Homo sapiens: one gene and its partners. Changing the gene in region 1 together with any one later gene gives a genetic interaction. Each region holds a gene or a part of one and is shown on either strand. Other genes may lie near its edges. The genes, in order: NF2, ALS2CL and PMVK.

Region 1 (3,647 bases):
GTTTTTAAAATATACACTGGAGCAAAGCTTATACACTGCTGTAACTGCTCTTTCCTCTTAGCAGTCAATCCTGAAGGAGATCATCCATATCAGCTTTTTAATCATGTTTTGTTGTGTGGATGGATTGTAATTTATTTAACCAGTCCCTCATGGATGAGTATTTAGTCTGTTTTCTTTTGCAATTTTGAACAAAATGACACTGAACATCCCTGAACACAAATCTTGACACACACACGTGGATATATTGGTAGAATAAATTCTTATAATAGAACTGTGGGGTCAAATTTTCGATTTTGATACTCTCCAAAGAAGTCATACCAGTTCATGCTCTCACTAGTGGTGCAGCAACTAGTACGCGTTTTTGCTGAAAATTTTTATGATGTGTAACATACACATAGAGAAGTGCCCAAATTACAACTGTACAGTTTGAAGAATTTTCACAAACTGAACATACCCATGTACCCAGCACCCAGATCAGAAAACAGGACATCCCTGGCACCCAAGGAGCCTTCTCTCAGCACCCTTGCAGACGGTCTGCCTCAGGCCTTGAGAATGTCTCAAATGAATGTTCCAAGCCTCTGCTCTTTCCCAGACACTGTCCTAGACTCAATACGGGATCCAAGGATGAAAAAGAGGCAGATTGTTTGCAGGAAACTTGCAAATAGTAGAAAGAAGATACAGCCAAAAAGAAATCTTTTACAGGGTGGAATCGCAGAAGAACCATTAGAGAACCGTAAACACAGCGTTAAGGGACAGCAAAGAAAAGGGTTGCCGGCTGGCTGGGAGGGGCTAGAAAGGCTTTGGTGAGAGATCGTGGTGTTTGAGAAGGGCCTTGAAAGAGGGATGGAGCATAGGGAGGAGAAATGGGATAGGCAGGGGTACAGAGATGGGAAGGCAGTAGTCCAGGGGATAATAAACAATACTGTCTGTGACTTAGTAGGGCAAATAGTAGGAGAAGCCGGGAAGCTAGATTGGGGTCCTCTTTAGATGACCCTTTGTGCTGGGATGAAAGTCCAAAAAAAAAAAAAACTACACCACCCCTGCTTCAGGCCCTACTCCGGTTCCATTGTCCAAGCCCAAGCCCCTCGGTGGGCCGGTGGGGAGCCCTTTGTGGTGGTGCCCATCTCCCACCCCACCTCTCCACACTGCATGGCAGACTCCTGGCACCCTCACTGGGCACTGCCCCACCCATTGCCATACTTCCCGTCCGGCAGACCTTCTCCTGGCACTGCCTTGGATCCCAGCAAAAGCAGCATCTCTTCTAGCCTCTGTTCGCTCCCTGGCTACAGTGTTTACCTTTTTTAACAGTGATGATCTGTGAACACATCTATTTCCTGAACAAGACTTTCAGCTGCTCAAAGCCAAGGATGCTGTCTTGTTTTCTGCATCTCCAGCCCCTTGCACAGGGCCTGGGAGTTTCCTAAATGAAAAAGCGAGTGGGAGTTTGTGTTTGATTCAGCTGAGCATGAAGAACGGTTAGAGATTTGAGGGATGATTTTCCTGGATTTGTAGTCTTTGATATTGTTTACCTGGCAGTGGCAAATGTGGAGGGAGTGAAGTGGAGGGATGGGGACTCGTGGTGGCATTGGGAGGTGGGACCCGAGTTGTGCCCATTGCCTCTGTGGCTGCTGGAGGATCGGTTGTCAACACAGTAGTGTCCTTCTGTGCTTGTATGACCCAAGCTCCTAATCCGAAATTTCTCATTAACAGCCCATGAACCCAATTCCAGCACCGTTGCCTCCTGACATACCAAGCTTCAACCTCATTGGTGACAGCCTGTCTTTCGACTTCAAAGATACTGACATGAAGCGGCTTTCCATGGAGATAGAGAAAGAAAAGTATGTAGCCCCCTGTGCCCTGCTGTGGGCAGCTGTGAACTAGACTGAGTGATTGGGGCCTTGGGAAGCTGGGGCAGAGGTGAGAGGTCGCTGCAGCAGCCTGTCATTACTCCTGCAAAGGTTTGCTCTGCTCTTACACCCTGGAGGAAGAATTTCCTTAATCAGAAATTAAGGACAACAGATCAGCATTCATTCTGAACGAATAAAAATAACAATTTTTATCCAGGATAAAAATAACACTTGACTGGTGAGCTGGAGTTTTTGGTGGCTCTAAGCCTCACCTAAAGTGTAGGACTGGGTTGTTAGCATCTCTGAGTCAGTTCAACTGCTGTTATACTACTGGACTGTAGTCACCTCCTAGTTGTGTTCTCCAGCAACTGGGATCTGTGGTGGTTCCCATGTCTAGAACAAACAAAGGTGAGAGAAGAGACTCAGGCTCGAGGCTAAGGAAAGCTGACAGCTGGTGGGGCCACTTTGCTGCAGTGGGTGGCACTGGGCAGGGCCCCAGCATGGCCTGATCATGGCAGCAATTGCTGAGCTGCCCTCCGTCTTCCCTTTATTGTGGGTAGAAGTGGATCAGAGATGGAAAGGAAAGGATCCCCACTGCAGAGGAAATCTAAGCGAGGGCCCCTAGTTCCCAGAGCTAGCGGTAAGTTGGTTAACTGCTGCTGCTTGCTAGAGGACAACCACAGTAGCTACCATGCATTGAGTGCCTGTGTGTCAGGGGTTTTGGCTTTTGTCTCATTTAATTCCTGCTAACTTACAAACATCAAAATGACATCAAAGGTAGGTTTTCATGTTCCCATTTTATAAGTGAGAACTCAGATTTAGAGAGTTTAGTGAACTCCACCAGCATCCCACAGCTGATGCAGAGGGGTTGAAACCCCTCACCCATCTGACTCTGCAGCCCATGTGCTTTTACCATGGGTGGTATCCTCAGGAAAACCCTTTGGGGAAAGTGTCTCCATGGAGTCCAGTATGGGCAACCAGAACCCAGGCTGTTTTTCTTTGGGCTCTCACACTGAGGGTATAGCTAAGTAGCCAATGAACCAGAGCCTCTAGCTGTCATATCTGCTGTCCATGTTCCTTTCACCATTATCCAGACATATACATTTATGTGGTTGGGATCCGGGATCAGGGTGAAGCTGTTCTGTGTCTGCTATTTTATAGTTTGTATTTTGTTACTATCTTAGTTTGTTTTGGCTACTGTAACAAAATACCAGAGGCTGGGTAGCTTATAAACAACAGAAATTTATTTCTTGGCCAGGCACAGTGGCTCATGCCTGTAATTCCAGCACTTTGGGAGTCCAAGGGGGGCAGATCTCTTGAGCCAGGAGTTCAAGACCAGCCTGGGCAACATGGCAAAACCCCATTTCTACTAAGAATACAAAAATTAGCTGGGTGTGGTGGCACATGCCTGTGGTCCCAGCTACTCGGGAGGCTGAGGTGGGAGGATTGCTTGAGCCTGGGAGGCAGAGGTTGCAGTGAGCCCAGATTGCACCACTGCACTCCAGCCTGGGCAACAGAGAGACACCCTGTCTCAAAAAAAAAAAAAAGAAAAGAAAGAAATTGATTTCTCACAGTTTGGGAGGCTGAGAAGGCCAAGATCAAGGCACGGGCAGAGGTGGAGTCTAGTGAGGGCATTCTTGCTGGTTCATAATCAGCCCCTTTTTGCTGCATGCTCACCCAGTGGAAGGGATGAGGGGTCTCTCTGGAGTCTCTTTTATAAGGGCACTAATCCCATTCATGAGGCTCTACCCTCATGACTGCCCAAAGGCCCCACCTCCTGACACTTTTTTTTTTTTTGAG
Region 2 (3,647 bases), on another chromosome or scaffold:
TAGCTGGGGCAGGGAGGTGGCGGTGTGGGTGCAGGAATGGAGGAAGGGGTGAAGGTGGTGCGTGGCCCTCTCTACACGCAGCGAGTACTGGCGGGGCCAGCGGAAGGCGCTGCGGCAGCTGCTTTCAGGTGTGAGCTCAGAGGGCTCGGTGGGCGCATCGCTGGGCCAGGCCCTCCACCAGCCACTCGCCCATCACGTGCAACAGTACGTGCTCCTCCTGCTGAGCCTCGGGGACACCATTGGGGAGGTGGGTACCAGGGGCAGCAGCATGTGGGGAAGCCGAGGGAAGGGAGGGATAGGGCCCAGACTCAGGGGGCTCAGCCTATACTCAGGAACCCTAGTACAAGAAGGACTCAGCCATGCCGGCAGGTGGGAGAGGGTTGAGGAAGTCACAGGCCTGTCCTGTGGTTTTCAGGGGACATGGGGGACGTGGCCCAGCCCTGAGGAGGGGGTCCGAAGACATGGTTCTGTCCTAGGGAATCTTAGTGGGTGAAAGCACTGCCCTTCCCTGCGGTGTCTGAGGCACGTGGCCCTGCCCTGGTAGAGCCAGCAGAGACCCAGAGAGCAGGGGTAGAATCACGTCCTGGGAATGAGGACACGTGGGCCCAGGGCCAAGCTGGGGAAGCACCTTCATATTCCACCCCCTGCCCCACCAGCAGAAGAGGAGCTGTCAGGGAGAGAAGGGCAAGGTCTGGCCTAGATTCAGGCCTCCCCACCAGCCGGGACCAGGACTGGGCTAGGGAAGATTCCAGTAAGCTCTCCTCTCACTGGCTGCCCTGTCCCCCTTCAGCATCACCCAACCCGGGAGCTGGTGGTGAACGCAGTCACCCTCTTTGGGAACCTGCAGTCCTTCATGAAGCAGGAGTTGGACCAGGCTGTGGCCACACAGGCTCTCTGGCACACCCTGAGAGGCCGGCTGAGGGTGAGTTGGGGGCCTGAGGGGCAGTTAGGGAGGGGGTTCCACATTGGGCATGGAGATGTTGGGGGGCTTGAGCTGCTTGCTGTATTCTCTGGGCCTCAGTTTCCCTATATGGAAGGGGGAGTGATGGCTGAAGCAGGTGGCTGTAAGGTCCCTCTGTCCAGCCATTCTTATCTGTCTGCTGAGCACGTCCTGGGCCAGGCCCTGACCCGGCCTAGGGAAGAGGCAATCAGCAGAACCAGTCCTCTCCCCTGGGGATATCACCGATCACACCCTTGCGTCACTGCCCACCATGGCATGGACTGCCCCTGCAGGGAGGAGAGTCCCCTGTGCCCTGAGGTTTGGACCTGGTGTGGAGAATTAGGAGACTAGGTAGAGGAACGAGAATTGTGGAAGGGAGGCAGGGGTGGCCGAGTACTGGGAGAGGACTGATAGGGGCATGGCTGGGGCCGTGGCACAGAGGTGTGGGAGGGGACACTGAAGCTTCAAGAGAGCCAGGAATGTATAATCAGTGCATTTCTGCCTATCTCTGACCCAGGGTCCGCTCCAGGTCTACTGGAGGGGGCCTCTGGGAGGTGTCTGGGGTACATTGGGAGGTGGCAGAGTGGCAGGCAGCTTGCAGGACAGAGGTGCCTAAGCCTTGTACTGTCCTCTTTGCCCCACCAGGATGTGCTCTGCACCCCTGCTCACAGACTCCTTCAGGACAGCCAGGACGTACCCGTGACGGTCGCACCGTTGCGGGCTGAGCGTGTGCTGCTCTTTGATGATGCCCTCGTCCTGCTGCAGGTTGGGGTGGGGCTGACCCAAGGTCTTGAGGCCACAGTAGGGTTCTGGGGTCTGGCTGGAAAAGGAGCAGTAAAGGGGCATGCTGCTGGGACTGAGAAAGTGGGCTGGGAGGGATGGTCAGGGATAGAAAGGCGTTGTGTTGGGGAGGGGCGGTCCACTGGAGCTGTCCCCAGAGGAGCATGGGCTGAGGGGAAAGGCTGTCCAGGGTTTGTCCCGGCTTCAGCCCTTCCCAGCTGGTGTCCTTGGTTACATGTCTTCACCTTCGTTTTCCCATCGGGAATGTGGGGGTCATTGTGAGTGAGTTTGTTCTACAGTAGACACCAGACAACTCTTAGTTCCCATTGTACTCAAATGAGAGAGGAACCCCAGACAGAAAGTCATGGGTGACTGAGGGGTGACTAAGGAGGGCTGGATGAGAAGGCTTCTAGAGAAAAGTACCCTACAGGAGCAGTGCCTGGGCTTTCAGCATTGTGGAAGTCAGAAGGGAGCCAGGCCTGAGGCTGGGAATTGTTACATGGCCAGTCACCAACTGTGGTTCATCCATCCTGAAATCATGTTGTCCTGGTGAGGTCCACAGCACAGTCTTCTCTACCCCTTAGAAGGTTGGCCTGGAACCCCCTTGCAGACAGGTGGCCGGGGCCTGGCAGGAAGCTGCTGCCCAGCCTAGACCTGTGTCCCCTGAAGCCTGATTTTGGGATTGGTTCTGATTTAGTTTGAATTCCCCTCCACTCCCAACTTCACACTCCACTCCAGGTACACTGATGAGCTACTGTCCCTTCCCTGTGCTAGCCCTCTCCTGACGCTGGACCTTTGCACATGCTGTTGTGTCTGGTGGGCCATCTCTTGTCCCTGGCCTGCGGCTGGCAAGCTCCTCCTCACCCCTCAGGCCTGGGCCTCCCACGTCCTCCCCATTCTGGTATGGAGCAGTGATTGGCCTGACTGGGCCGGGTAGGAAGTTGCTACACAAAATCTTCCCATAGGAAGGGGCTTTTTTTCTGGCTGTCAGAGCAGGATGGCATTCCAGGTAGAAGGAACAGTATGAGCAAAAGTTCACAGTGAGGAGAGGTTGGGGCAAGCTCATGAAGGTGTGATTGTGGAGTGGCCCTGATGGCGTAGTGGTCTGTGAGGTCTTAAATGTTAGGCTCAGCAGTGTCTCAACCCCCAGGCAGTAGGAGCCATAGAGAGGTTTCCAGCAGGGGTTGACCAGGTCCCAGCTTCATTTGTAGACCACTCTGGTAGCCACAGGGGGCTAGAGGCTGGTTCTGAGTTCCTGGCCAAGCTCTGGGGTAGAAAGGACATGGAGGAGCTGTCCCTGAGGTGGGGAGCAAGCCAGAGGGGAGAGGGACTCAGTCCTGGACATGCTGGGCAGAATAGCCTTGGTGGCCACACAAGGTTGAGCTTGGGGCAAGCCTTGGCCAGAGGGTAGGTGAGCATCTGGCCTGGGCTCTGGATGACTCCTGTGTCCATCCTCTTCCAGGGCCACAATGTCCACACCTTTGATCTGAAGCTGGTGTGGGTGGATCCTGGGCAGGACGGGTGAGCAACCCCCTCGGCTGACACCCCAGGCCTTCTTCCCTTTACCCCCATGACACCTGCCCACACCCTGGGACTCTGGCTTGGGCCCCTCCACCCTCCTGGACAAAGCTGGGGCCTACTCATCACCTCCGTCTGTCTAGGTGCACGTTTCACCTCCTCACGCCCGAAGAAGAGTTCTCCTTTTGTGCCAAGGACTCCCAGGGCCAGGTGAGTGTGGGTGAGCTGTGAACTGCGGGAGCGGGGTCAGAGGACAGGGTAGGAAGAGGGCAGAAGTATGCAACCCTGCAGGGCCCCACAGGAGTGCCGGCGAGTGTCTGGCAGGCTTCTGGGGACCTGGTCAGAGTAAATCGGGGTCAAGAATTAGAATGTCAAAAAGAACAGGGTATTTTTCTTTCTAAAGACAGAA
Region 3 (3,647 bases), on another chromosome or scaffold:
GAGTTTGAGACCAGCCTGGCCAACATGGCAAAACCCCGTCTGTACTAAAAATACAAAAATTAGCCGGGTGTAGTGGCGGGCGCCTGTAATCCCAGCTACTTGGGAGGCCGAGGCAGGAGAATCGCTCAAACCTGGGAGGCGGAGATTGCAGTGAGCCGAGATCGCGCCATTGCACTCCAGCCTGGGTGGTGGAGCAAGACTCCGTCTCAAAAAAAAAAAAAAAAAAAAAGGTTGGTTAAGTAAATTAAATAACGAATGAGTTATTTTTATTTTTATTTTCATTTTTGAGATGGATTTTCACTCTTGTTGCCCAGGCTGGAGTGCAATGGGGCGATCTCGGCTCACTGCAACTTCCACCTCCTGGGTTCAGGTGATTCTCCTGCCTCAGCCTCCCGAGTAGCTGGGATTACAGGCATGCGCCATCATGTCCGGCTAATTTTATGCTTTTAGTAGAGACAGGGTTTCACCGTGTTGGTCAGGCTGGTCTCAAACTCCTGACCTCAGGTGATCTGCTGCCTCAGCCTTCCAAAGTACTGGGATTACAGGCGTGAGCCACCACACCTGGCTTTTGTTTCAGTTTTTTAAATTTGCTTTTCTTATTTCATTTTTATGAGACAGGGTCTCACTCTGTCTCCCAGGCTGGCATACAGTGGTACAATCATGGCTCACTGTAGCCTGGAACTCCTGGGCTCAGGAATGCTCCCACCTCAGCCTCTGGAGTAGCTGGGAGTACAGGCACATGCTGCCATGCTCAGCTAATTTTTAAATTTTTTGGTGGAGATGGTATCTCTGGGTCTTATTGTGTTGCCCAGGCTGGTCTTGAACTCCTGGCCTCAAGCACTCCTCCTGCCTTGGCCTCCCAAAGTATTGGGATTACAGGTGTGAGCCACCATGCCCAACCAGTGAATTAATAAATGATATATGTTATGGTGACCAAGTCAGTGGAGACAGATACCTCTGGCTATGAGAGAATTAGTTTAGGGTCTGGGCAATAACCTAATCCAGCTAGAATATTGTGCGCCTGTTCACACTGTAATTAGCACTTTATAGGTTTTACCTGTTAGTTTCAGGGCTCTTTTATATTCTTTAGAGTTTCATAATAATCCTGTGTGGGAGACAGAACAGAAAGTGTTATCCCCATTTTCTGATGAGGAAACAGGATCAGGGACATTGAGACCTACCAAAGTTACATAATACCAGTAGTAGAAATGGGACTTCAACACAGGCCTCTTGACTCCCTTTCTGGGACATGGAAGCTCCTGGAAATTCTAGGCTAACTGGATTCTGATCTCCCTGTCCTGCAGACTTGGAGCTGATGTCTGTGCTGTCCTCCGGCTCTCTGGTCCACTCAAGGAACAGTATGCTCAGGTAGGTGGTGCTTTGTGGCATCCGGTGTGTTGGGCGGGGCCGGCTCCAGGACTTTGGAGCTGTGGCTGCTGCCTGAGTCACTGGCATGATTCCCGTCACCACTGCTGGCAGGGTGGTGGCCAGCTCTTGGTTTTCTGTGAGTGGACCTTTCGGGGGCATTTTCAGCTTATATTTCTTTCCTAATAGCCTCCCTCCCTTCAGAGTGAGTTCAGGAAGGTGTGCCCAGGAAAGGCTGTCGACACTCGAGTTGGCAGCTCTGATGCTGTGTGATTAGTAAGGACCTGCCTGTGCCTCCTCACACCACCCTCTCACTCAGCTGGCCTGACACAGCCCCTAGAACTTTGCTCCTAGAAATTTAGTACAGGCCGAGCACGGTGGCACATGCCTGTAATCCCAGCACTTTGGGAGGCCGAGGCAGGTAGATTGCTTGAGTCCAGGAGTTAGAGACCAGCCTGGCCAACATGGTGAAACCCCATCTCCGTTTCTTTAAAAAAAATTTTTTTTAAAGTAAACAACAACACACAAAAAAGAAATTTAGTCCCAGAAGTTGTCAAAATATATCATTAAGTGAAAAAAAAAAAAAGCCAATACCAAGATATAGAACAGTGTGTAGAGAATGCTACATTTGTCTAAAACTGAAGAGGCACTTTGTGACCAAGAATTGTAAAAGAATTCTAAATATATCTGCTCATATATTTGGCTATTTAACAAATATTTACAGGGTGCCTGTCTCATGTTCAGCACTGTTTCAGGTGCCTGGGATGTGTTCCTGCACTGCATGGGAAAGACAGGTTAGAAACCGTACCATTGGTTGCCCCCAGGGAGGGGACAGGGTGAGAGAGAGATTTTCGACTGTAAATTAATGTGTATCTTTGAATTTTGAACCACATGGATTAAAAAAAATAGAATCGTTAAAATAGAATAAAAAAAATAAGTCAACAGGAACTCTCAGAATCTTAGACTTCAGAAAGGGAACTTGGAAGGCAAGATCAGCCTCCCACATGGTGAAGAGCCCTCTTGTCGCCACATTTTGCCCTTGACCTCTAGGTGCACCCTTCTGGGACGTGTGCTTTGGCCCCTCAATTGGCCAGAGTGTGGTTTCCGGAACCACATAAAATGAATTGTCCCCCCTTCTATATGCCATCTTTGCCTCCATGGGAAGCATTGGGTCATCTCTCACCAGCTGAACAGACCTATTCATAGGGTGGCAGCCTGAGGAATTGTAAGAATAACTAAATTAAGTGGTTTATTTTTTTTTCTTTTTGAGACAAGGTCTTGCTCTGTAGCGCAGGCTGGAGTGCAGTGGCGCATAATGGCTCACTGCAGCCTTGACCTCCTGGGCTCAAGTGATCCTCCCACTTGAGCTTCCCAAGTAGCTAGGAATACAGGTGCATGCCACTATGCCTGGCTAAGTTTAAAATTTTTTTTTGTAGAGATGGGAGTCTCATTATGTTGCCCAGGCTGGTCTCCAACTCCTGGGCTCAAGTGATCCTCCCACTATGGCCTCCCAAAGTGCTAGGATTTGGGCAGGAGCTACTTTACCTGGCCTGGTTTTCAAAAATTTTAAGCAGGATTCTTTCCCAAATGAAACTGGATACAGAATTTCTTTGTATCCAGGAGACAGACTGGGAGCGATGCTGCAGGGTGGTGGGGTGGTGGTGGGGGGATGGGAGGAAGGAAGGGGTGAAGGGGAAGGCACTGAGCCTTCCCTAGTGGGGCCTAGGCACTTCCAAAGGCCTCCCAGGAGCACTTTCAAAACTGATCTTCCAAAGTTCCCAGACAGGTCTTGCTTCTGTCCTACTGAGTGAGACTGGTGGGGTTGGGTGGGGGGCGGGAGGAAGAAGGAGCAGGAGTTTGCATTTTTATTTATTTATTTATTTTATTTATATTTGAGACGGAGTCTCGCTCTGTCGCCCAGCCTAGAGTGCAGTGGCACGATCTTGGCTCACTGCAACCTCCACCTCCTGGGGTTCAAGCAGTTCTACTGCCTTAGCCTCCTGAGTAGCTGGGATTGCAGCCATGGGTGACCACGCCCGGGTAATTGTTTTGTATTTTTAGTAGAGACATGGTTTCACCATATTGGTCAGGCTGGTCTTGAACTCCTGACCTTGTGATCTGCCCGCCTCGGCCTCCCAAAGTGCTGGGATTACAGGCGTGAGCCACTGTGCCTGGCCAGTTTGCATTTTTAAAAGCTCCATGGAAGACTCTGATAGGCCAGACTGCCCTTGCTCTGTGCAAGTCCAGCACCACTCTATCCCCCACTCCCATTAAAAAACAAA

Evidence for each region.
Region 2: changes in NF2 (region 1) and ALS2CL together harm fitness more than expected from each alone (negative genetic interaction), as found in Homo sapiens cells (one large-scale study listed by BioGRID).
Region 3: changes in NF2 (region 1) and PMVK together harm fitness more than expected from each alone (negative genetic interaction), as found in Homo sapiens cells (one large-scale study listed by BioGRID).

The regions. Positions count from the first base shown.
Region 1 is NC_000022.11:29,676,486-29,680,132, forward strand, and holds part of NF2 (merlin), read left to right. Parts: intron 1-1,710; coding exon 1,711-1,838; intron 1,839-3,647. UniProt on the Homo sapiens protein: Probable regulator of the Hippo/SWH (Sav/Wts/Hpo) signaling pathway, a signaling pathway that plays a pivotal role in tumor suppression by restricting proliferation and promoting apoptosis.
Region 2 is NC_000003.12:46,683,583-46,687,229, reverse strand, and holds part of ALS2CL (ALS2 C-terminal-like protein), read left to right. Parts: intron 1-81; coding exon 82-247; intron 248-790; coding exon 791-922; intron 923-1,585; coding exon 1,586-1,705; intron 1,706-3,182; coding exon 3,183-3,241; intron 3,242-3,381; coding exon 3,382-3,448; intron 3,449-3,647. UniProt on the Homo sapiens protein: Acts as a guanine nucleotide exchange factor (GEF) for Rab5 GTPase. Regulates the ALS2-mediated endosome dynamics.
Region 3 is NC_000001.11:154,930,073-154,933,719, reverse strand, and holds part of PMVK (phosphomevalonate kinase), read left to right. Parts: intron 1-1,304; coding exon 1,305-1,368; intron 1,369-3,647. UniProt on the Homo sapiens protein: Catalyzes the reversible ATP-dependent phosphorylation of mevalonate 5-phosphate to produce mevalonate diphosphate and ADP, a key step in the mevalonic acid mediated biosynthesis of isopentenyl diphosphate and other polyisoprenoid metabolites.